Homo sapiens: one gene and its partners. The protein of the gene in region 1 purifies or fractionates together with the protein of each later gene. This does not show direct contact. Each region holds a gene or a part of one and is shown in the gene's direction. Other genes may lie near its edges.

Region 1 (3,500 bases):
CATCCTGTCTGCTCCCTCATGGCTGCCTGGGAAGGGATGTGTCGGTGGGGGGGTCTGGAGAGTGCTTCCTCCTCAAGGCAACGGTAAGGGTCCTGACTTCCCGTCTCTCCGATCTGCTCCGTTGGCCGGCAGGAAACTTTGCTGCCCTGACACTAGCCTGGCTCTTGAGGGGTCCTTGTGGGGTCCTGGACTGTCCACTGCTCTTGCCTTCTCTGTGCATGCCTGGGGGCTATGCAGGGGGAGGGGCAGCACCCAAAATAAGGAACGCTGCGGCCTTTTCCCCAGCCTGTGGTCAGTGGTCCCCAAGCTGCCTTCAGGGTCCAGGGCCTCAGTGCAGCACAGAGGAGGGTCCCCTGGGTCCCCCACTGGGAGGACATGATAACCTTGGTCCTCTTCTGGGCACTCATGGTCTGGGGAAAAGATGGGGGCATCGTGGACTCAGGATAGGCTGTCAGGAGCTGAGGAGGGGCTGGAGAAGGGGGTTAGGGCGAGGAGAGGTTCCTGTCCCTGCAAGATCAGGAGAGGGGGTCACTAACCCCACAGCCAGGTGGGTCCAGCCCGAGAGTCCGTGACTTAGTAGCTGAGGACTTGCTCTAGGGTCAGAGGGCACATGGCAGGAGAGTCACCCCGGCTGAACGAGGCTCTGCATCTTACCGAAGCCGCTCTACGGGTGCCAGGCACTGGCTCTGGAGCGAGTGCCCAGGCGGAGCAGAGCGCTGGGAGGAGGGTCCGTGGGGAGCCCCTGCCAGGTGGGTGTGGCTTAGCCCAGCTGTGGGCAGTCGCACTCAGGGACGAGCTCCAGGTGGGGAGCCTGGGACCCACAGCCAGTATGCAGCTTGGGGAGCACCCGGGAGGGGCTGTGGCCACCGGACCCCCTGGGGTGGGGCTGGCCAGGGGAGGGTTAGCCAGGGAGGACTGTCATGGGAGGGGCCTTGCAGGTGAGCCAGGGGCCAAGGGGAGCCTCAGGAGGGAAACAGCATGAGGAGTGGGGGAGCCCAGGAGCTTCCGGTGGGACATGTGGAGCTCTGCTGTGGAAGTAGACCAGGGATATCTCGGGTGGCTGGGGTCCCTGGCTGCCGGGACAGGGTAAATGCCTCCCAGAAGCCTGGGGTGAGCCCTGAGGGACAAGGTCTCTGGAGCCAGTCTGGCTGGAGAAGGGACAATTCTGTGTGCCCACCCCTCCCCTCACACTGGGTGGTGTGGGAGGTGGGTCCATCTCCTGCTCTGTAGGAGATAAGGACATTGAACCCCACCCTGGGCCCTCTGGTAGCCAAGGCCTCACCCTAGTGAGGGGGATGGATGGAGGGAGCTTGAGCCTAGCTGACCTCTCCCCATCTGACTCCGACCCCACCTCCCAGGGCACAGGATGGCGTCTGGGCAGCCCCTAGTCTTCAGAAGCTACCCCTGAGACCACAGGGTCCCACCTTGTATGGGAACCCCATCCTGGAGACAAAGGCCCCTCCGAGCTCCCCAGGTCGGGGAGGGCCACGCCCCTCACCACCCCTGCCCGGACACCGCCTGAGGTGCACCTGCTGCTGGGCCACACCTGGACTCAGCTCTACTGAGGACTTCCTTTCCTCAGTTTCTCACCTGGCCCTGCCAGATCTTCCTGGCCCTGCCCAGCCAAGGCCCCTCCCCCAGTCAACAACCCTCAGAAAGGCTCCTCCCCCCTTCTCTGCCTAGGGAGCCACATTCCTGGCATAACTAAGACAGGTATGTGTCCCTCCCTCTGCGCCACCTTTGGGCGGGGGAGGCCCGCTGCTCCCTCCGGAAGGAGACCCCCGCCCCTGCTTTGTCAGGGAAGTGGCCTGGCCTCCGCAGTGCCAGCTGCCCAGGGCTGGCGGCTGAGCGGGCGACTCCTCCGGCCCTCGCCACCCTGTCCTGTCTGGGCACTGCCCATGCCCTCCCAGCCCACCTCACAAAGGCTGGTCCTAGAGCCTCCCTGAAGCCCCCAGGAGGGACTCCTGGCTGAGGGCCGGCCAGGCCGCCCGGGGCCCATCCCTCCCTGCTAGGAGCCAGGAGCAGAGAAAGGGAGTGTTGTCTGCCCCTGCCGGGGCCTGGCACAGGGACAGGGCAGGGGGCCAGGGTCAGAGTGAGTCTGGCGCCTTCCCAGCCCGGCCCTGCCCAGCTCTGAAGCCCGGGGTCCCGGCGGCCTAGTCCCGGGCCCGCCTGTATTCCGGCGTGTGCACCCTCCCTTCCTCCCTGCCTGGCCAGCTGCCTAGGCCTCAGGACGGCAGTCCTAGGGGAAGCCCAGAGTCCCACGGCACCGGGGACAGCATCGGTGCTGGGGTTGAGGGGCCCGACAGCCCCAGACCAGGCTCCCCTCAGTGTGGGGCAGTCTAGGAGTTGGGGGAGGTTTCTGGGATGCAGGAGGACCTCCCATAGGGCTGGGGCCAGCCCCCTCTCCTGCCCAGGGCTCAGCTCCTGCCCCCAACTCCTCCGCATTCCTGCCACCCTCTCCTGCCCCCTCCTGACTCCAGGTTCTCATCCTGCCCCCTGGTTCCCCCACCCCCACCCCATGAGCCCCTCTCTGGCCCTCCCCCAGGCAGGTCTGGGCTCGAGGCTGCTGCCCCAATCTCCCTCCTGCAGCTGGGAGGGGGTCTGCCGGGTGGGAGGGCGGAGGGCCTACCTCTGTCCCTCCCCACTCACCTCTGTGTCTCCCCACCCAGGGGCTCCTGGTAGGAAGTTGGGGCCCCACCTCTGTTTCTCCTGGAGCTGGGAGGGGGGTCTGCCGGGTGAAGGGCCCACCTCTGTCCATCCCAACCCCGGGGCTCCTGGTGGGAAGTCGGGGCTCGGTGCTTCCCGCCTGCGTGAATGGACTTGTCCCGTCTTTGACTTCTCCTGGGCTTGCCCCTGCCTTGGCCTGGGGGGGGGCTTTGCTGGCTGAAACCAAAGGGAGTGAGGTGGTGGGAGGGGTAGGGGAATCGGGTTGGTCAGTTCTGTGGAGATGACCTCTTTGAGAGGGCCGGGCTGAGCTGGTGGAAGGAACTCTTGGCTTTTTCCAGACCCCACCCCACTCCCTCACTCCCCACCCAGAGAACAGCCCTGGCTCCATTGTTCCTGCAGACTAGAGAGGGAAGGTTGTTTTGGAACTGGGCTCGCTCCCGCTTGTCCACACTGGCCGCTCTGGTGGGGCCTCTGTGGGTGGTGGTGGGGATGGCACCTGCTGCAGCCTCCAGGCCAAGGTAGGGGAGAAGGAGGTTAGGGTGAGGACAGGTTCCTGTCCCTGCAAGATCAGGAGAGGGAATCATTAGCCCCACAGCCTGCAGAAGGCGGGATGGGGCTGCTCCAGGGAAGGGGGTGCCCGTGCCTCGGGGCCACAGGTCCGGCCAGAGGTCATTCCAGCCAGGCCCATGCAGCTTCCTTCCTGAAGGGCTGACTCTGCCCCCATCACTGCAGGAGGGTGGAAAACAACTGCAGAAGCAGACGCCCCACGCCCAGGGCTTTGCTTCCACCTGTGGGACCCAGGTCCACAGCCCCACCAGCGGCCTGGGTGGGGC
Region 2 (2,582 bases), on another chromosome or scaffold:
ATTCTGTCACCCAGGCTGGAGTGCAGTGGTGCCATCTGGGTTCACTGCAGTGTCCACCTCCCAGGTTCAAGTAATCCTCCTACCTCAGCCTCCCAGGTAGCTGGGACTACAGGCATGCACCACCATGCCTGGCTAATTTTTGTATTTTTTGTAGAGATGGGGTTTCGCCATGTTGTCCAGGCTGGTCTTGAACTCCTGGGTTCAAGCGATCCTCCCACCTCCACCTCCCGAAGTTCTGGGATTACAGGTGTGAGCCACCCTGTCTGGCTGAAGCTTTTCTTTTCTGGGTCTTTTTAGCAGCTCTGGTGGTGCCTGGATTGTAGAGGCGAGCTATGGGCAAGAAAGTCAGTCTGGAGCGGGTCTGCCCTGGCAAAGGGCCTGCCCCATTAGCTCCATCTTAGGGTGGCACATGGAATCCCCATCACCTCACTGGCTGCCCTGCCGGCCTTAACCCGCCCGTGCATCCTGGCCATGCCAGCTACCTGTCTTCCAAAGCTCCTGTACTTTTGCCCAACAGGGCCTTTTAACAAGAGGTCCAGGAGCCCCCAGCTTTGGGTACCACATGTGCCCGTGGCTTTTTTCTGAGGCGAGGCCTGATGGCTGTCATGCTTCAGCTGCCTAAAGGGACCTGTGACCCAGGCACTCTGAGGCAGGCCCACTACTTCAGCCTGCCCTTCCGGCCCCGAGATCTGGATCCCACAATGTCATGATGGGGAAGGTCCGGGGTTCAGGCGGCAGTTCAGTCTGTTCTGCCCCACTCGCTCCCCGCCCCCTGCCCATGTGACATCTGGATGCTCCCGCGCTCGGGGTTATGTTTGTGCAGGAACACCAGCTCCTGCTGCTACCTGGCCCACGTGCTGCACAGGCACTGAAGGTTCACCTGAGGGCCACACCATAGTGTCGGGGCCAGCCAGAGGCGGGTGGGGGACAGGGTTCAGGGCAGGTGGGGCCAGCTCCACCTTGATGACTTGGAAGCTGAGGTGGTAAATGTTGAGTGTGATGATCTTGTTCTCGTTGGGGGCTGCCATTTGTTTGAGCCTCAATTTCTCATACAAACGGGGCATATTCTAGGGCAGAGGCAGGCAGATGCTGCTTGTGAGTGCTAGCCCCAGCACAGGACTTCCTGCTCTGTAAGTGGGTGCTTCCTGGCGGCTTTGTCACTCCTCCCTGGTCTAGGGGAAGGAGCCAACTTGCTTGGTTGCTCTTGAGAGCTGAGATGGCTCTAGGAGCGGGGCATCCCAGAAAGCGGACTTCAGCTCAGTCTTGGGGAGGAGCCTCTGAACCTCCATGCTTTCTCCTCCAGTGGCCAGGGCCGGGACCCCGGCCTGACGCCTGCCCCTCCTCTCCCAGAGCATCATCTACTACGTGAGCCGCTCACCAAAGCTGGAGGTGTGGCTCAGCCATGAGGGCATCACGGCAGCCCTGAGGCCTGTGCGGGTGCCCGGCTATGCCGACTCGGATCCCACCTTCTCGCTGAGTGTGGATGAGGACTATGACCTCCGCCTGTCTGGCCTCTCGCTGCCCTCCTTTTGTGCTGTGCACCTCGAGTGGATCCAGTACTGCGCCTCCCGGCGCAGCCAGGTCAGGCTCCACTACCTGAGGCTGCCACCTGGGGCTGTGGGACCTGGGCTTCCCTGCTCCCCTTCTCCCCATTTGGTTTCCTCTCACTCTGAGCCTCCCTTAGCCTGAGCCCCAGCCCCCACTCCAAGGTCCCTGTCCCAGGTCTGAGCTGGGCTCTGGGATGGGGGTCCTTATGCCACAGCCCGTGGACCAGGATTGGAACTCCCCGCTGGTCACGCTGTGTTTTGGCCTGTGTGTGCTGGGCCGCCGGGCCCTGGGGACAGCCTCTCACAGCATGTCTGCAAGGTGAGTGCTCGGGTGTCCCGCGGGGCCTACTGCCGTCCCCACCCCACCTCTTCCACGAAGAGCACTGTGGTCTCTGGCCACAGTGGCCACAGAAACTGCAGTGGCCCTTCCTGTTGGGGTACCTCTTCTCCCACGGGCAGGGCACTTCCTGGTCATGACCTTGCCTGCTCCTCAGTGCTCTGTGAGAGACATGGGCAGAGATTGGCCTCTTTGTCAAGATGGGGAAACTGAGGCTCAGCGTGAGGAAAGGCCTCTGCTTGGATCACTCTGAAGCCTTACCCCTGGGTCCTCGACACCCCTCTCTCCCCTCCCTGTTTTTCCTCCCACTTAGCCTGGAGCCCTTCCTCTACGGCCTGCACGCCCTGTTCAAGGGGGATTTTCGCATCACCTCCCCACGTGACGAGTGGGTCTTTGCCGACATGGACCTGCTTCACCGCGTTGTGGCGCCTGGGGTTCGCATGGCCCTCAAGCTTCACCAGGTTGGGGAGGGGTGTGCCCAGCAGCATGGGCAGGTGGGGGATGAAGCCTCTCTCCAGGGCAGGGGCCACTGACCCCTGTTCCCGTCTTCTCTACCAGGACCACTTCACGTCCCCAGATGAATATGAGGAGCCAGCAGCCCTATACGATGCCATTGCGGCCAACGAGGAGCGGCTGGTCATCTCACATGAGGGTGACCCAGCATGGCGCAGCGCCATCCTCAGCAACACGCCCTCCCT
Region 3 (3,500 bases), about 54 Mb from region 1:
ACCCCCATGCCCGGCTAATTTTGTGTTTTCAGTAGAGATGGGGTTTCTCCGTGTTGGTCAGGCTAGTCTTGAACTCCCGACCTCAGGTGATCCGCCTGCCTCGGCCTCCCAGAGTGCTGGGATTACAGGCGTGAGACACCACATCCGGCCAAGAATACTATTTTTAAACATTGCTTTACTGTGTTTCACATATTGGAGGATCACCTTGTGTTTTTCCCCATAGGTTGATTTGTTTCTAAGAGAGAAATTCTCTGTTCCATGGCCTAGATCTTACCCAGTACCCACTTTTGATTTCAGAGACTTGTTATGATTGTAAGGGGACTAGAAAAAAGGGTGGATGGCTGAATACAAGCTAGTCTCACTTCACTAGAAATGTCCACATCCTAATAGTGAACCTGATTTTTATAAGCATTTAAGTGCTCTTTCATGTTCCCTTTCTACCACATTCAGAAATTGCTACTTTTCCTTTAAAAACATTTAATTTTTGTTATATAGATTTTCAAGATGTGGAATAAAGAACTTTATGTGAGAGAACAGCAGGATGCATATGAATTCTTTACTAGTCTCATTGATCAGATGGATGAATACCTCAAGGTAGTAAAAGTTGTACTTTCCCTCTAACTCCCTCAAACTCTAATTATAGTATGAGAATAGTGTCTTAGCATTTGGGGTTACTATGAAACTGACGAATCAGAAATTGATTATCTTTAACATAAGAACTATAATGTATTCTGTGTTTAAACATCAAAACATAACACAGATCAATAGAATTGTATATTTTCTCTTTTTTTTCTTTTCTTTTTTTTTGAGACAGAGTCTCGCTCTGTCACCCAGAGTGGAGTGCAGTGGCACAATCTCAGCTCACTGCAACCTCTACCTTCCAGGTACAAGAGATTCTTGCACCTCAGCCTCCCGAGTAGCTGGGATCACAGGTGTGCACCACCACGCCCGGCTAATTTTTGTACTTTTTGGCAGAGATTGGGTTTCGCCATGTTGGCCAGGCTGGTCTCAAACTCCTGGCCTCCAGAGATTCACCCACCTCAGCCTCCCAAAGTGCTGGGATTACAGGCTTGAGGTACCATGCCTGGCCTAGAATTGCATATTTTCTTAATTCATCTAACGCTCAGTAAAGTATGTAACTCTTAATCTCTACTACATAGTAATAACCATTCCTACCTACATATTCTTTCTGTGTGTCTACTGAAATAATCTGGCCTCAGAAGAGTGCTGCAGTCACTGGTGAGCTGATGGCCCTGTGCAGAGCAGAGAGTGCTCTGGCACAGGGGAGAAAGGAGCCAGATTAAAAAGTTATTCGTGGTGCTGTTGAAACCCAAAGCTCTCTACCTCTACCCTGTAAGCCATGTGGCAGACTTCCTAAACGGTATTGCCTTCTCAGATCCCGCTGTCACTGCCAGCATTGGCCTCTCATCAGTAGGCACAATTCTTCCATTTTTTAAAGTAACTTGCAAATTGATGGCATTCTATCCACAAGAAAAAAGAAAAGATTGCTGAGAGTTGCCCCTAACTTGGTCCTTGTAGCACAGGGAGAAGGATTCAGAATCACCCTGGAGAACACTCTCTTGTCATTAGCTCTACCTGACCCATCCCTCCTCCTCTTCCTCTTCTGATCGTCTGCATCACTCTGACAGTGGGGCCAATAATGGGTTTAGCCTCCATTCACCACAGCTGATACTACCAGAATGACGCGTTTTGTTTTGGTCCTTAAATTGCAATGTGTTAATAAAATTCTGTATACTCATAAGTTCAGGAGGCATCACTTAAAACTGTAACTTTTCATTCCAACAGAAAATGGGGAGAGACCAAATTTTTAAGAATACATTTCAGGGCATCTACTCTGATCAGAAGATCTGTAAAGACTGTCCTCACAGGTGAGTGAAGATATCACCGACACAGGAAAAATGATCATCCTTTTGAAGTGATTTGTTTAGTATGTTGTAAATTTTGCATTTGTTAAGAGACTTAGAACTCTCTCCCTGTCAACAGATCTATAAGTATTTAGTGACTTAAATTTCTTTGCTTTCTACTTCCAGAAGGAGAAAAAATTTCTTTGTGGGCTTAAGAAAATATTCATTGAAATTCATAATTTTAGGCAATTCTTAATTGTCACAAAGTGGCATTTTAACTTAGTAATGGACTTTTAAAATATTGAGGGACTCCCAGATTAAAAATGTAGTTCTGTGTTCAAGCTTAGGTATTATGATAATTGAAGAGTTTTAAATTCCATTGTTGATTGTGGGTTTTCTGTTATTTCCTAATCAGATATGAGCGTGAAGAAGCTTTCATGGCTCTCAATCTAGGAGTGACTTCTTGTCAGAGTTTGGAAATTTCTTTGGACCAATTTGTTAGAGGAGAAGTTCTAGAAGGAAGTAATGCGTACTACTGTGAAAAGTGTAAAGAAAAGGTATTATGTTTGCCCTTTTTAAAAAACAAGATTAATTTGTTATTCGCATAGTGCGTCTTTGTTTTATGTAAAATCAGTATTAAGCTCCTACTGTTATTTCCATTAGATTGTGTCATTACTTGTTTTCACATGGATCAGAAAGGCCTTTGCATTAATTACTGTGCTGTTTTATTTTCTCCATGGAGATCATTCAGATTTGCTCTTTTTCCTTTTTTTTTTCTTTAGAGAATAACAGTGAAAAGGACCTGTATTAAATCTTTACCTAGCGTCTTGGTAATTCACCTAATGAGATTTGGGTTTGACTGGGAAAGCGGACGCTCCATTAAATATGATGAACAAATAAGGGTAACTTTTTTTCTTCCTGAAATTTTTCACAACCATTCATTTCCTCACTCACTTCTTTTTTTTTCCTTTTTCAATTTTCATATTCTGTCTACCATGTTAAGGCTGTTGTCTCAGCATTATGAAGAGCCCCTTATCTTAGGCAGCTGCTGTTACCGGAATAGGCAGATCTGGAAACAGTGGCCCTCATTTCTAGAAGGCATCCTAGTGATTACTATGAAGGAAAATGCCTTCCTTAGGGCTCAAACCAGAGGCTACTTTAGACGTTCCCAGACTTAACATTTCTGAGATTTTATACTTGAACTGGTGAGGTAGTTGTTCCTAGCTTAAACTAGGAAAACACTTCCTCTTATTTGGATCTCACTTAACTGGGTACTGCTGTATATGTTAGTAATCAACGTTAATATGGTCTTTTTGCTTCTACATAGTTTCCCTGGATGCTAAACATGGAGCCTTACACAGTTTCAGGAATGGCTCGCCAAGATTCTTCTTCTGAAGTTGGGGAAAATGGGCGAAGTGTGGATCAGGGCGGTGGAGGATCCCCACGAAAAAAGGTTGCCCTCACAGAAAACTATGAACTTGTCGGTGTCATCGTACACAGTGGGCAGGCACACGCAGGCCACTACTATTCCTTCATTAAGGACAGGCGGTAAGAGTTTCCTGAGGCAGCACTTACTCACTTTCTGCCCTCCCCTGCTCTCCGTTATCATCCATACTCACCGCTGTGGTGCAGGGA
Region 4 (2,767 bases), on another chromosome or scaffold:
GAGGAGGGTCTCTGGCCTGCTGTGCTGTTCTTTGTTTTTTTTCTGAGACAGAGTCTCACTCTGTCATCCAGGCTGGAGTGCAGTGGCGCAAACATGGCTCACTGCAGCCTCGACCTCCTGGGTTCAAGCAACCCTCCCACCTCAACCTCCCGAACAGGTGGGACCACAGACACGCACCATAACGGCCAGCTAATTTTTTTTTGAGATGGAGTCTTGCTCTGTCACCAGGCTGGAGTGCAGTGGTGCGATCTGAGCTCACTGCAACCTCTACCTCCCGGGGTCAAGCGATTCTCCTACCTCAGCCTCCCAAGTAGCTGAGATTACAGGCATGCGCAACCATGCCCAGCTAATTTTTGTATTTTTAGTAGAGATGGGGTTTCACCATGCTGGTCAGGCCGGTCTCGAACTCCTGGCCTCGTGATCTGCCCGCCTCGGCCTCCCAAAGTACTGGGATTACAGACGTGAGCCACTGTGCCCAGCCTACGCCCAGCTAATTTTAAAATTTTTCAGTAGCACTGGGGTCTCACTATGTTGCCCTGGCTGGTCTTGAACTCCTGAACTCAAGTGATCCTTTGGCCTCGGCCTCCCAAAGTGCTGGGATTATAGGCATAAGCCACCACGCCCGACTCAACGTTTAATTTTGGATGAACCGCCAGACTGTTTTCCACAGCAGCTGCTTGACGCTAGCCAGTCTAATGGGTGTGAGGTGGGATCTCATTGTGGTTTTGATTTCCATGTCCCTAATGATTAGTGATGTTGCATCTTTTCATATGCCTATTGGCCATTTGTCTGTCTTCTTTGGAGAAATGTCTATTCAATTCCTTTGCTCATTTTAAAATTTTGTTTTACTTTTTAGAGACAGGGTCTCGGTCTGTTACCCATGCTGGAGTGTAGTGCAAACACAGCTCATTATAGCCTCAACTTCCTGGGCTCAAGTGATCCTCCCAGCTCAGCCTCCCAAGTAGCTGGGACTACACAGGTGCATGCCATCGTGCCTGGCCAATTGTTTAATGTTTTGTAGAGATGGAGTCTCACTATGTTGCCCAGGCTGATCTTGAACTCCCAGCCTCAAGCGATTCTCTCGCCTTGGCCTCCCAAACTGTTGGGATTACAGGCATGAGCCACCATACCTAGCCCCCTTTGCCCATTTTTAAATTGAGTTGTTTTCCGTTGCTGAGTTTTAGGAGTTTTTTAAATCATTCTGGACATTAATCCTTTAGCAGATAAATGGCTTGCAAATATTTCCTCCCATTCTGTGAGCTGCCTTTTTATTCTTTTGATAGTGCCCTTTGATGCACAAAAGTTTTAAATTCTCATGAAGTCCATTTTGTCTATTTTTTTCTTTTGTTGTCTGCACTTTTGATGTCAGACCCAATAAATGATTGCCACATCGATTTTTTTTCTTTTTTCTTTTTCTTTTTTTTTTTTTTCAGATGAGTCTGGCTCTGTTGCCCAGGCTGCAGCATGGGAGCACTATCTTGGCTCACTGCAACCTCCGCCTCCCGGGTTCAAGCGATTCTCCTGCCTCAGCCTTCCTGAGTAGCTGCGATTACAGGCACCCACCACCACACCTGGCTAATTTTTTTTGTGTTTTTAGTAGACACGGGGTTTCACCACGTTGGCCAGGCTGGTTTCAAACTCCTGACCTCAAGTGATCTGCCCGCCTCGGCCTCCCAGAGTACTAAGATTATAGATGTGAGTCACCATGCCTGGTCAAATCCAACAGTGAGAAGCTTCTACCCCATGTTTTCTTCCAGGAGTTTTAAGTTTTCCATTTCACATTTAGGTCCATTTGGAGGTAATTTTTGTATGTGGTGAAAAGATCCAGTGTCATTCTCTTGCATGTGGAAGCCCAGCTTTCCCAGCACCATTTGTTGAAAAGACTATCCTTTCCCCATTGAATGTTTGGAACGCTTGTTGAAGATCATTTCAGCATACATGTGATGATTTATTTCCGGGCCTCTATTGTATTCCATTGGTCTATATGTCTGTCTTTATGCCAGTGCCACGCTGTTTTGATTACTGTAGCTTTGTAGTAAGTTTTGAAATCTGGAAGTGTGAGTCCTCTATCTTGATTCTTCTATTTCATGATTGTTTAATCTCCTTTTCACATTGTTCATTGTTCATGTATAGAAATTCAACTGTGTTTTGCCTGTGGACTTTGTACCTTGCTTCTTTGCTGAATTCGTTTATTATTATTTTTTGAGATGGAGTCTCACTCTGTCGCCCAGGCTGGAGTGCAGTGGCACAATCTCAGCTCACTGCAACCTCCACTTCCTGGGTTCAAGCAGTTCTCCTGCCTCTGCCTCCCGAGTAGCTGGGATTACAGGCACCTGCCACCACGCCCAGCTAATTTTTGTATTTTTAGTAAGAGACAGGGTTTCGCCATGTTGGCTAGGCTGGTCTTGAACTCCTGACCTCAAGTGATCTGCCTGCCTCAGCCTCCCAAAGTGCTGGGATTACAGGCGTGAGCCACTGCACCCCCAGGCCTGATTTTTTACATTATTGTTCATAAAGTCTGTTGAACTGGCATTTTCTTGTAGAATTAAATATCTGTGCCTGGCTTTGGTATTAAGACAATTCTGGTCTTATAAAATGAGTTAGGAAGTGTTCCTTCCTCTTCAGTTCCTCGGAAAAGTTTGAGAAAGGCTGATGTTAGTTCTCTAAATGTTTAGTGGCTTCCCCAGGGCTTTTCTTTGTTGGGAGGTCGTAAGTTACTGATTCATTCTCCTTGCTAGCTACAGGTATGTGCTGATTTTCTATTTTT
Region 5 (3,500 bases), on another chromosome or scaffold:
TCTGACATTTTCAACACCCTTTGTTACTTCTATCTTCACTGGTGAGCTGTGGATTATTTTATCATCTGGATGCTTAGAACTCTGAGCAAGTCATGTTCTAGAACTATGAGACTAAACAATGAAGAACTTTGCACTGGTAATATCAAAGTACTGAAAGTGTGTGGTTTTAAAGTGTGAAAAACATGGCAGTTAAGATCTCTCAGGTACTTTGAACCATAATGCAGTTTTCCTTCTCTTCAAAACCTCTACTTCTAAATGGCATTCATTGTGTTTTCTAGTGTTTTTTCTTTGGTATGACACTAGTTAACCTGTATTTCTTACCATAAAGCTAGGACTCAAATACTAAGAGGTTTGACTCACCTTAGGTGGAACTTTATATAGTACTTTAACTTAGAAATATTTGGAATCAATTTCTGCTTATAAAGGTATCAAAAGCAAGTGATACTAAAACGAGTAGGTTCAAAGTTGTATACTAAATAGAGACCTTGGTAAGAGAGAATGAGGGATTTTCAAATATGGTCCAGAAGATAGTCTCTGAAAGGCTAAACCAGCAATGGTTACTAGCCATGCAGGAAGCCAGTGCTGTCTAATCTTACAAATTCTGTTTTCCTGCCAAATGGCATTTAGGAGCAACTGATAATTTATTTCTTGCCACTTGCCGTTACTGGAGATTTATTTGGTTTCTCAACTCAGCCCTTAACAAGAAAGCAAGTCTTTGTTGAGGGCACAATATTATCAGTATGGCAAAGCTAAGACGAGGCTTCTGTGTGACACTGGAAAGACCAACAAGAATGGATTAAAGAGAGTGATTTTCCATATGCTGTCACTGGGACAGGTACTTTTCTCTGTAGACACACAGGCTAAAAGCAGTTTAAAAGCTTCCTTACCTAAACAGTACATAGTTCAAGGAGATAGGCCCTGTGTCCATTGCGTCTCTAGTTTTTGTTTCTAACCCATTATATAAAGAAACATCCCAGTTTGCTTTTTAGAGAAAAGTTCAAGTTAGAACCATTCTCTGGTCTTGCTAAGTCTCTTAATTGTGACACAACTGTCCTAAGCAACTGTCCTTGCACAAGAATGTCACTCATCTGCTTCATCTGCCAGCTCCTTAGAGATGAGGGGGGTCTGTGTGTCAGCAGGAGGCAGAAGGCCCTGTGGCTCATCCAGTGGCCTGATTTCCTTTGTTTGGAGGCTTGGTTCTGAGTGAGAGTTCAACAGCCTTTGCCCAGGCGGCTTCTCAAACACAGGGTGTGGTTTCCTTAGCTCACTCTCTGCTGTTTGGTTGCTCATGGCAACAAGATCCAAATAACTTGGACATGTGTTTGTATAAAAAAAACCTGGGAATGGAACCCAAAGTGAGACTTTGGGGCTTTCAGTTAGTGGAAGAGCTGCGGTGAGTACCAGGCAACTGCTCATTTATTTTCTCTCATTCTTTCTCTCTAAATTACGCTGGAAGTTTGCTAGCACAATAACCATGTTTGTGGATAGTTTTAGAAAGTAGTCTCAATTCTTGTATTTCCTGCACAAATGAAATAATTGCTATCTATTTACCCGTGCAAATTTCTTTTTCGGGGGAGAGGAACAAATTAGCATATGTTTAAAGAAGTTGAAAGCTAATAGAAACTCATATTTGGTACCTTTTGGGTGGCAGGATTCTATAGGAAATGCCTTGGCAAAGGGAGCTGCAGAGTGCCTTAGTAATGCTTGGGATTGCAGGCGTGTTGTCTAGGGCCACAGCCGGGGAGGGGACCAGGGAGGGAAGAGGGGTTGTTCATACGGAGGGAGTGGAAGGGATTCTTGGAATAATTTTTTCCAGACTCTATTTTAAGATTATAATTTTTAAGACAGCAAATATCCCAAATGGTAATACTGGTTACACTTCTATGAGCATATTGATTCTCACTTGCTTGACTCAAGGGAGGGTTTGATTTTGGTCACAAAGCCACCCGTGACTATGACAGATAATTCAAGGTTGCCAAACTTGCCTGTGCCAATTGACAAAGCCATTTATATAAGTCCTCTCTTGCTATATTGCTCTGGCCTCAAAAGGCAGTAAACTCTCTTGGACAAAACTCTTTAGGATCTATTCAGGGATTTAACACTTTTCTGCTAAATTGCAAGTAAATTTAAACATTTTAAACAAATTAACAAGGATTGCTTAGGTACCTGGTGTGGTACAGAATGAGCTGTCAGTTTCTATTCTGATGAATAGAATTTTATAGATAGGAGGAACGGGAGGCCTCCAGAGGATACTACCCTCCCTAAAAAGAGACGGAGGAAGAGCTGAAAGCGGGCAGAGAGGCTTCTTGATGACAACGTGGTGGGCTTAGAGAAGCTGCTGCCTGCAGGCGGGGCCCCTGCTTTCCTGCACCCCTTTGAGCCTCTGCCCCACACTCTTCCTTTGTATAAAACAACTGCTTCTTGCCTGCCTGCCCCATCACACCCCTCCACTCCATCGGGTCACTGCTCAATGGCACAATAGCACTGCTCAGCCATACCTCCCAGCATCCTGTCCCCTATCTGGTGACTTGGCCAACACAGGCTCTGATCCACTTGCCCCGCTCCGCATCTTTTGTGAATCAGCACAGTTGATATATCTGAGCAGGGGCTTCTACCATCTCCCCAGGGAATCACTAGCCATCGGCCATCTGGCCCCGCGGGGTGCTTTTGTTCCTGGAATCATAGTGAAGTATCTGTTGTCTTGGTGCCTGGTAGTCAGCTCGGCTGAAGGGGAAGCTGGGTCTTGGTCCTCAGACCCCATGGACTCCAAGGCAGCATTGTGCAGGTGCCTCTGGGAGCCACTGCTCAGGGTGCTGGGGCATTTCCTGTGGTCATTTGTCCTGTCTGCTTGCCCCCGCAGGTCCCTCCAGCTACAAGGTGGGCACCATGGCGGAGAAGTTTGACTGCCACTACTGCAGGGATCCCTTGCAGGGGAAGAAGTATGTGCAAAAGGATGGCCACCACTGCTGCCTGAAATGCTTTGACAAGTTCTGTGCCAACACCTGTGTGGAATGCCGCAAGCCCATCGGTGCGGACTCCAAGGTAACGGGCATCCCCATGTGCCAATGGGAAGGGCTGGGTTTTGGAGTGTCCTTTGCCCACAACCATGGCAGCAGCAGCTGGCTGTTAGGATTTCCCAGCATCACTGCAGCCACCTTGAGGCCTCAAGGAAGCCTCCTCCACTCCCCAGGCCACAGTGGCCCGAGCTGTTTAATGTGGGGCTTGACTGGATGGGCGCCAGCGCCCTTGCCAGCTCTTTTGATTGCATTCTAAATATTTCAAGAATTGTGAGATTTTTATCCTCACCTCAGCGTCCCTCCTATAAGAATAGTCACTGTGGGGCAGTCCCAGGTGTAAGGGACTGTGTCATCTCAGTGGTCAGTCCCAGGGAAATCAGCCTTATGGGAGGGCTCCTGCCACCACCCCCAGCACCCCTCATGGTGGCCCACCCTGTCTGCTTGGTTTCCAGGAGGTGCACTATAAGAACCGCTTCTGGCATG
Region 6 (3,500 bases), on another chromosome or scaffold:
TGTGGTTTCAAATTTGATGGCTAGGCTGGACGCAGTGGCTCACACCTGTAATCCCAGTACTTTGGAAGGCCGAGGTGGGTAGATCACCTGAGGTCAGGAGTTCAAGACCAGGCTGACCAACATAGTGAAACCCCATCTCTACTAAAAATACAAAATTAGCCAGGCGTAGTGGCACATGCCTGTAATCCCAGCTACTCGGGAGGCTGAGGTAAGAGAATCACTTGAACCCAAGAAGCGGAGGTTGGTATAACTGAAATACCACATCTCTGAATATAACTATATACATGTTCACACCACCACTATAGAAAAACGTCAAAAACTTAATTTGGATATTTTTATTTATTTATTTATCTTTGAGACAGACTCTCACTCTGTCATCCAGGCTGGAGTGCAGCGACGCGATCTCGGCTCACTGCAACCTCCGCCTCCCGGGTTCAAGCGATTCTCCTGCCTTAGCCTCCTGAGTGAGCTGAGATTGGGCCACTGTACTCCAGCCTGGGCAACAAGAGTGAAACTCCATTGAAAAAAAAAAATTGATGGCTAAACTATATTTGTGCAAAATGAAAAGCAATGATAATATTTACGCATAGTTGTTACCAAAATATTCTTGTAGAAGTAGATCAACCTCAAGGGGAGATGTGAATGATCAGGATGCAATCCAGGAGAAATTTTACCCACCACGTTTCATTCAAGTGCCAGAGAACATGTCGATTGATGAAGGAAGATTCTGCAGAATGGACTTCAAAGTAAGAGAAGGGTTCAAAAGTACTGGGGGAAAATTAACAATGGGATACTAAGTTTTGAAAAATGTTCTTTTCCTACTTCATAGCTTGCAAAGCAGTACGTACAATGGACAAGAACACAAATTCTGAAGTCAAACTGATGTGGGTTTGAATTCTGGCTCTGCCATCCTCCAGCTAAGCAACCTTAGACAAGTCATTTAACCTCTCTGTGCTTTTGTCTCCTCATCTGTAAAATGGGATAACAAATACCCCAAAAAATTATGAGGATTAATTGAGTGGATAGGTATACCTAATAAATACTTTTATAAGTGAAGCTATCAGAACAATATAATTTTTAAAGTACAATGCCCTTTTTTTTTTTTTTGAGACAGGGTCTTGCTCTGTCACCCAGGCTGGAGTGCAATGGCACAATCGCAGCTCACTGCAACCTGTCTCCCAGGCTCAAGCCATCATCCCAACTCAGCCTCCCTAGTAGCTGAAACTACAGACGCGTGCCACCATGCCCAGCTAGTCTAGAACTCCTGGGTTCAAGGCGATCCACTCACCTTGGCTTCCCAAAGTGCTGGGATTACAGGCGTGAGCCACTGTGCCCAGCCTTAAAGTATAATGTCTCTCCAATTCTCCTCTATCAAGAAATTCAAGCCACCCTGCTTTCTCTTGGCCTAAAAGAGTCCCTCAGACTAGAAAAGCTCTTTAGAAGAGGTTATATTTTTATTATCCTTATTTTGGAGAACTTTTCCTTATAAAATTTTTTTTCCAGATTCCTTATGAACTCAAGTTAGTGTTAAAGCTTTGGATTCCACTGTTAACAGTTTATGTAAAAACACTTAACAAATTGCCATTTATATGCCAAACTATAGCTCAAGAACACTCTGTTTTAGAAAAATTACGCATTAGATCAGGAAGCCTCATATATATGTGCCTCTGGGACTTCATTTGCAGTCACATTTAGCCAGAAAAGCAATGACTTCTATATTCCTTATGGAAACCAATGTAACATAAATTAATGTTCTAAATATAGAAATTAAGAGTTCATAAAGAGACTGAGGTTGCATGTAAAAGAGTTATGGTTTGAGACAGTCTAAAAATACTATGTTAATTTCAAGGATCTTATTTCCAATGTTTTGTTTAAAAAATTATAAATACTTTTGAGCTCTTGCTTTGCATTTCAATCGCAAACCCACTCAGATACGGGAACTGTTTAAATTCATATATGGACAAATAGGTTTCAGTGATGCAATACTTTAAAATTCTGCCATCTCCTTGTGTTTTTCTTTCTAGGTGAGTGGACTGCCAGCTCCTGATGTGTCATGGTATCTAAATGGAAGAACAGTTCAATCAGATGATTTGCACAAAATGATAGTGTCTGAGAAGGGTCTTCATTCACTCATCTTTGAAGTAGTCAGAGCTTCAGATGCAGGGGCTTATGCATGTGTTGCCAAGAATAGAGCAGGAGAAGCCACCTTCACTGTGCAGCTGGATGTCCTTGGTAAGCCTCCAAAGAGACCCTTGAGAATTCCTTAAAATCCAGAAGTATTGAAAAAAAGAAAGTATTTTAAAAGAAAAGCCCAGCAGACTTCATATTTAAGGTTAATGTCTATACAACCTATTGGAATGTCCATTTTTATCTACAAACCACAGGAAAAAATATATATATATACACACACATACATACATATATAGATATGTGAAGGAAAGTCAGTGAAACTAGAATGACAGATCTATCACCAAAGCTTTTCTGGAAAGAAAATAAATCATACAATTTTAGACAAACCAAATAATGAAGCATAAGCATTTCTAGACGTAACTATAGAGTCTCAAAATGAAAATCTTAGTCTAATCATTTCTCTGGTCTTTGTTTCTCCAAAATGAGGATAATAAAAATAACCAATCTGACTCACAGTATTACAGAATTATCATAATCTGTCAAACGTTAAATACATAGTTTAAAAGTGAAGAGTAGGCTGGGTATAGTGACTCAGGCCTGTAATCCCAACACTTTAAGAGGCGCCAAGGTGGAAGGATCACTTGAGCCAAGGAGTTTGAGACCAGCCAGGGTAACAAATAGCAAGATCTTCTTTGTCTCTACAAAAAATAAAAAAATTAGCTGGGCATAGTGGTGCACACCTATAGTCCCAGCTACTAGAGAGGCTAAGGCAGGAGGATAACTTGAGCCTGGAGTTTGAGGTTTCAGTGAGCTATGATTGCACCACTGTACTCCGGCCTGGGTGACACAGTCAGACCTTGTTTAAAAAAATTTCTTAAAAAATCAAGAGTAAATATCAACTTTTAGCCTTAGACTATGTCCTTTTTACTAGGAAACTAATGTCTAATTATAACCAAAACAGGCCTACTTGCTTTAGAAAACAGGTATGGCTACATTTATGTCTCAAATCTGTCTTAAGTAGAGCAGTTCTTATAAAACTGGTGTCTGGTTTTTAAATTTTACACTTTAAGTGCTTTAAATATACAAGTTGAGTATCCCTAATCCAAAAATCTGAAATCTTTAAGATGCTCCAAAATCGACATGACACACAAAGGAAGTGTTCATTAGAGCATTCTGGATTTTCAGGTTAAGAATGCTCAACAAGTATAACGCTAATATTCTAAAATAAAAAAAAAATCAGAAATCCAAAACACTTCTGGTCCCAAGCATTTCAGATAATGGATACTCAACCCATACCATATTTTTAATACTTTAAGCCATTGTATATTGCATAAGAGATATTTTGCTATAATTCACTATTTATTATACAG
Region 7 (3,500 bases), on another chromosome or scaffold:
TCCCAGTAGAACCGGTAACATGGCAAAAAGCATCGGCTTAGAATTTTGACTGGAAACAGTTGTGCGTGTGTTGGAGGACCTAGTTCTTGATTCAGGGGAAAGCTGGTTCTTTACAAAGTTGAAAATCACAGTGGCTCACACCTGTAATCCCCAAACTTTGGGAGGCCAAGGCATGCAGATTGCTTCAGGTCAGGAGTTTGAGACCAGCCCAGGCAACATGGGGAATCCCCATCTTTACAAGAAATACAAAACTTAGCTGAGTGTGATGGTGCGTGCCTGTAATCCTAGCTATGTGGGGTGGGGGCTGTGATGGGACGATGTCTGAGATGGGAGCCTGGGAGGTTGAGTGAGCTGAGATTGCGCCACTGCGCTCCAGCTTGGGTGACAGAGGAAGACCCTGTCTCAAAAAAAAAAAAAAAGAAAAAGAAAGAAAATTTCTACCTTATTTTGTGCTTGGCTCCTTATTCATGTGTCTTGGTTTCTTTTTTTTCACTGACAATACTAGTAGCTGATCAAGATATGCAGATTCAAATTCTTTCTTTTGTATTTAGTGATGTCATGTGTAATCACTGTGAAACACGGTTTCTCAACTCCGGCACTATGACACTTTGGGCTAGATGATTCTTTGTGGTGTGGGGCTGTCCTGTTCATTGTAGACTTTTGTCAGCATCCCTGCCCTGTACCTGCTAGATGCCCATAGCAGACTTCTCCTTCCCCATTCTTATTTGTGGCAACCAAAAATGTCTCCATATCTTGCCAGATGTCTTAAGGGACAAAATCACTTCAGCCTGAACCACTGCTGTAAAGATTCAAACAATAAATAAATATATGACTTAAGTAGTGAAAGACCCTCCTCCATTTGTTTTGGGGGGAGGACTCTCCATAGGTTCTAGTTATCTACTCAAATGATTGTCACCCCCACACATTTTATTTATTTATTTCAATAGCTTTGGGGTACAAGTCGTTTGTGGTTACATGGATGAATTCTATAGTGGTGAATTCTGAGACCACCTCCCCCGCCCCCATTTCTAAAAGGGCAGGCAAGTGTGTGGTGTGGACAGAAGACCGAGGGCTGGGGCTGTTCTGGGCCACTTATGCCTTGTCTTAGGTGTGGTGTGAAGAGGGCAAAGCCCCACCCCAGGACCCCAGGAGCAGAAAGAGCCTCAGCGGGGTCTTGTTCTTCTTTCTCTGGGTCACGCTGAGAGGGGAAGGGCAGGTTGAGGGGCCCACTGCTGGGTTCTGGGTTAACTCTCAGGCAGCTGGAGTGTCCACTGACCACACGCTTTCCTGATTCCATTCCTGCTTCCCCCTTACCACATGGAAATGTGCACACACACTCACACTCACTCTCTCTCACACTGATCAGAAAGTATTGACATTCAACTCAGACTGATTCTACTCAGATACTCATTTAAGCCTCAAGTCATTTAAAACAACATGTTTCTCCTCAAACTTGTGCTTGCGGCTCATTCAATATAGATTTAAAAAATTCCTATAATCACTAGTCTAGGGGACTTCAGCTGTGGGCAAGACAAAGTTCCTGCCCTCAGGGAGCTTACTGTCTAGGGCTTTTACAACTAAAACTTGTGATGACTGCTATGAAGAATGAGAATGGGGCTCGGTGACAGAATTCAGAGCTACGGGCTTGTTTTGGAGTTTTGTAACACTTGCGTTAGGAGAGAGTTGGGCACAGGAAACGGGTAGAAGGCTGCTCCCAGGAGGGGTGATGTGGCTCCGACCTGGCAGGCAACAGTGGAGATGAACATCTCCTGTGGCAATGAAACTTTTTGACTATGGGGAAAGGCTGGTGAGTGCCACCAGCTTCCGAATCCCCCTTACAGAAAGGGGTCAGAGTTTGTCCCCTGTGGCCGACCTGTGAGCTTAAAGCAAATGGTCGTCTTTGAGCATAACAACAGAAAGACACTCATTTGTGGTTTTCCCATCAGGTGTGGATGGTGCCTTTTTATGTTTCAGGCTCTCTGTTGCCTCCCAGAGAGCCAAATGCCGGCTTTTCCAGAACCCCAGAACTTTCCCAGGCAGAGATATTTAGTGAAGTGTTGGTTGGTTTTCTAAGCATCAGGCTTCTTAGCTAAGGCAACCTATGGGGGTACTGCCGGGAAACAGTCGGCTACCTGCCACCTTCTAATTTGCTTTCATGGTAATTCTGGGTGCTTAAATATTAGCCTAGTTTTTCCTGGCCTGGTTAAAAACCCGGAGTGGAGTTATTTTTAACAACGTGTCCTGTCTTACCCGTAATGGCATGTTGATTTCCTGTGGTAGGCCAGCTGTGGTTGGTTGGTGGCGGCTCCCTAGACCACTGGATTGACTGGGGTTCAGAGTGCATGAGGAAGAAGATCTGGCATGAGGGAATGGTGACATGTGTCTGGGCATGGAACAGGGGAGTGGCGGATAATGCTTGGGGTCTGCCATCTTGGACAGTTTATCTTACCCGGGTTTGTTGGTTTTTGGCTACTCTCATGCTGAGCTCAGACAACTTCTAGTGGAGGCTCTGACTTAAAGATTGGCCTCAGAGGTAGTCCCTTGCCATCAGCTGTTGACATTGAAATCCTCAACTGTCACTCTCTAAAGTAAAGCCCCCTTTTGTTCCTCTCACCCCAGTGTGGAGGCCTGTGCTTGTTTGCCAGGGCCAGCCATTTATTTCACGTAGCTAAAGACCTGGATGCCGTTGAAACCCAGCTGTTGTTAGAAAGCCAGGGACTCAATTCTTTGTGTGTCTTGGCTGTCTACCATCTCTAATTCTACAAAGTATAAATTCTCTGGGATGCAAAGCAGAGATCCCTCAGCTTTCACGGCAGTCATTAACTTTGCCAGATACCATGGGGAGCACCAGGACTCCCATGCGAGGCAGAGGTGCACGTAGCCCCTTGGTGATGGGCGTGGTAGCCTGAGGCATGCTGCCGTTCGCTGGATGGGGAGGTCCCCCTCCACAGTGGAGTCCATGAGTGTCCTTGGCCTAGCCCTTGTTTCTCTGTTTAGCACTTCTCTAGCAAATCACTATCTCCTCTCCTCGACTCCTCTGTGCTTCATCTTTAAAACTGACACCCTCAAGGAGTCAGAGGCCCTCAGGGTCCCCCGGGGGGTCAGCCATGTAGCAGGAGCTCAGCTTACACTCAGGAAGACGGCAAGGCTTCACCAGGTGGCCGAGTGACCGAGAAGGCTGAGTGTGGTCAGAAGGTGCCAGCTGCATTGGAGGGAGAGGAGTCTGGGGGACACACAGGAGCCATGTGTGGGGGACAGGGCTGGATGTGGGCTGCAGGGCCTGCCCATCTCTCTCCGTTCTGTTGTTCCACCACTTGGCTTCCTCCTTCAGTTGCTCCAGCAGCCTGTCTCCTCCCTCGCCTCTAGGCTCCTGCATGTGCTGAGGCCTCTCTACTTGAAGCACCTCTCTGTCTGCTCCCTCTTGTGCCGCAACTGAGATGTTACTGGAAAGCTTTCTCTGGTCTCCCGCAGACCAGGTTAATTGCCTCCTGAGTGCTCCA

What was found.
Region 2: the proteins of AGRN (region 1) and PCNX3 purify together in Homo sapiens (affinity purification with mass spectrometry, with the first as the bait; one large-scale study listed by BioGRID). This does not show direct contact.
Region 3: the proteins of AGRN (region 1) and USP24 purify together in Homo sapiens (affinity purification with mass spectrometry, with the first as the bait; one large-scale study listed by BioGRID). This does not show direct contact.
Region 4: the proteins of AGRN (region 1) and MAP1S purify together in Homo sapiens (affinity purification with mass spectrometry, with the first as the bait; one large-scale study listed by BioGRID). This does not show direct contact.
Region 5: the proteins of AGRN (region 1) and FHL1 purify together in Homo sapiens (affinity purification with mass spectrometry, with the first as the bait; one large-scale study listed by BioGRID). This does not show direct contact.
Region 6: the proteins of AGRN (region 1) and MYOT purify together in Homo sapiens (affinity purification with mass spectrometry, with the first as the bait; one large-scale study listed by BioGRID). This does not show direct contact.
Region 7: the proteins of AGRN (region 1) and FLNB purify together in Homo sapiens (affinity purification with mass spectrometry, with the first as the bait; one large-scale study listed by BioGRID). This does not show direct contact.

Annotation. Positions count from the first base shown.
Region 1 is NC_000001.11:1,023,120-1,026,619, forward strand, and holds part of AGRN (agrin isoform 2 precursor), read left to right. Parts: intron 1-3,500. UniProt on the Homo sapiens protein: Isoform 1, isoform 4 and isoform 5: neuron-specific (z+) isoforms that contain C-terminal insertions of 8-19 AA are potent activators of AChR clustering.
Region 2 is NC_000011.10:65,632,776-65,635,357, forward strand, and holds part of PCNX3 (pecanex-like protein 3), read left to right. Parts: intron 1-1,303; coding exon of another isoform or gene 1,304-1,350; coding exon 1,351-1,581; intron 1,582-1,762; coding exon 1,763-1,866; intron 1,867-2,197; coding exon 2,198-2,345; intron 2,346-2,442; coding exon 2,443-2,582.
Region 3 is NC_000001.11:55,096,865-55,100,364, reverse strand, and holds part of USP24 (ubiquitin carboxyl-terminal hydrolase 24), read left to right. Parts: intron 1-495; coding exon 496-594; intron 595-1,806; coding exon 1,807-1,889; intron 1,890-2,280; coding exon 2,281-2,422; intron 2,423-2,647; coding exon 2,648-2,767; intron 2,768-3,192; coding exon 3,193-3,413; intron 3,414-3,500. UniProt on the Homo sapiens protein: Ubiquitin-specific protease that regulates cell survival in various contexts through modulating the protein stability of some of its substrates including DDB2, MCL1 or TP53.
Region 4 is NC_000019.10:17,729,480-17,732,246, forward strand, and holds part of MAP1S (microtubule-associated protein 1S), read left to right. Parts: intron 1-2,767. UniProt on the Homo sapiens protein: Microtubule-associated protein that mediates aggregation of mitochondria resulting in cell death and genomic destruction (MAGD). Plays a role in anchoring the microtubule organizing center to the centrosomes. Binds to DNA. Plays a role in apoptosis.
Region 5 is NC_000023.11:136,203,547-136,207,046, forward strand, and holds part of FHL1 (four and a half LIM domains protein 1), read left to right. Parts: intron 1-1,355; exon of another isoform or gene 1,356-1,393; intron 1,394-2,860; coding exon 2,861-3,042; intron 3,043-3,469; coding exon 3,470-3,500.
Region 6 is NC_000005.10:137,881,360-137,884,859, forward strand, and holds part of MYOT (myotilin), read left to right. Parts: exon of another isoform or gene 1-613; coding exon 614-746; exon of another isoform or gene 747-2,024; coding exon 2,025-2,232; exon of another isoform or gene 2,233-2,262; intron 2,263-3,500. UniProt on the Homo sapiens protein: Component of a complex of multiple actin cross-linking proteins. Involved in the control of myofibril assembly and stability at the Z lines in muscle cells.
Region 7 is NC_000003.12:58,126,922-58,130,421, forward strand, and holds part of FLNB (filamin-B), read left to right. Parts: intron 1-3,500. UniProt on the Homo sapiens protein: Connects cell membrane constituents to the actin cytoskeleton. May promote orthogonal branching of actin filaments and links actin filaments to membrane glycoproteins. Anchors various transmembrane proteins to the actin cytoskeleton.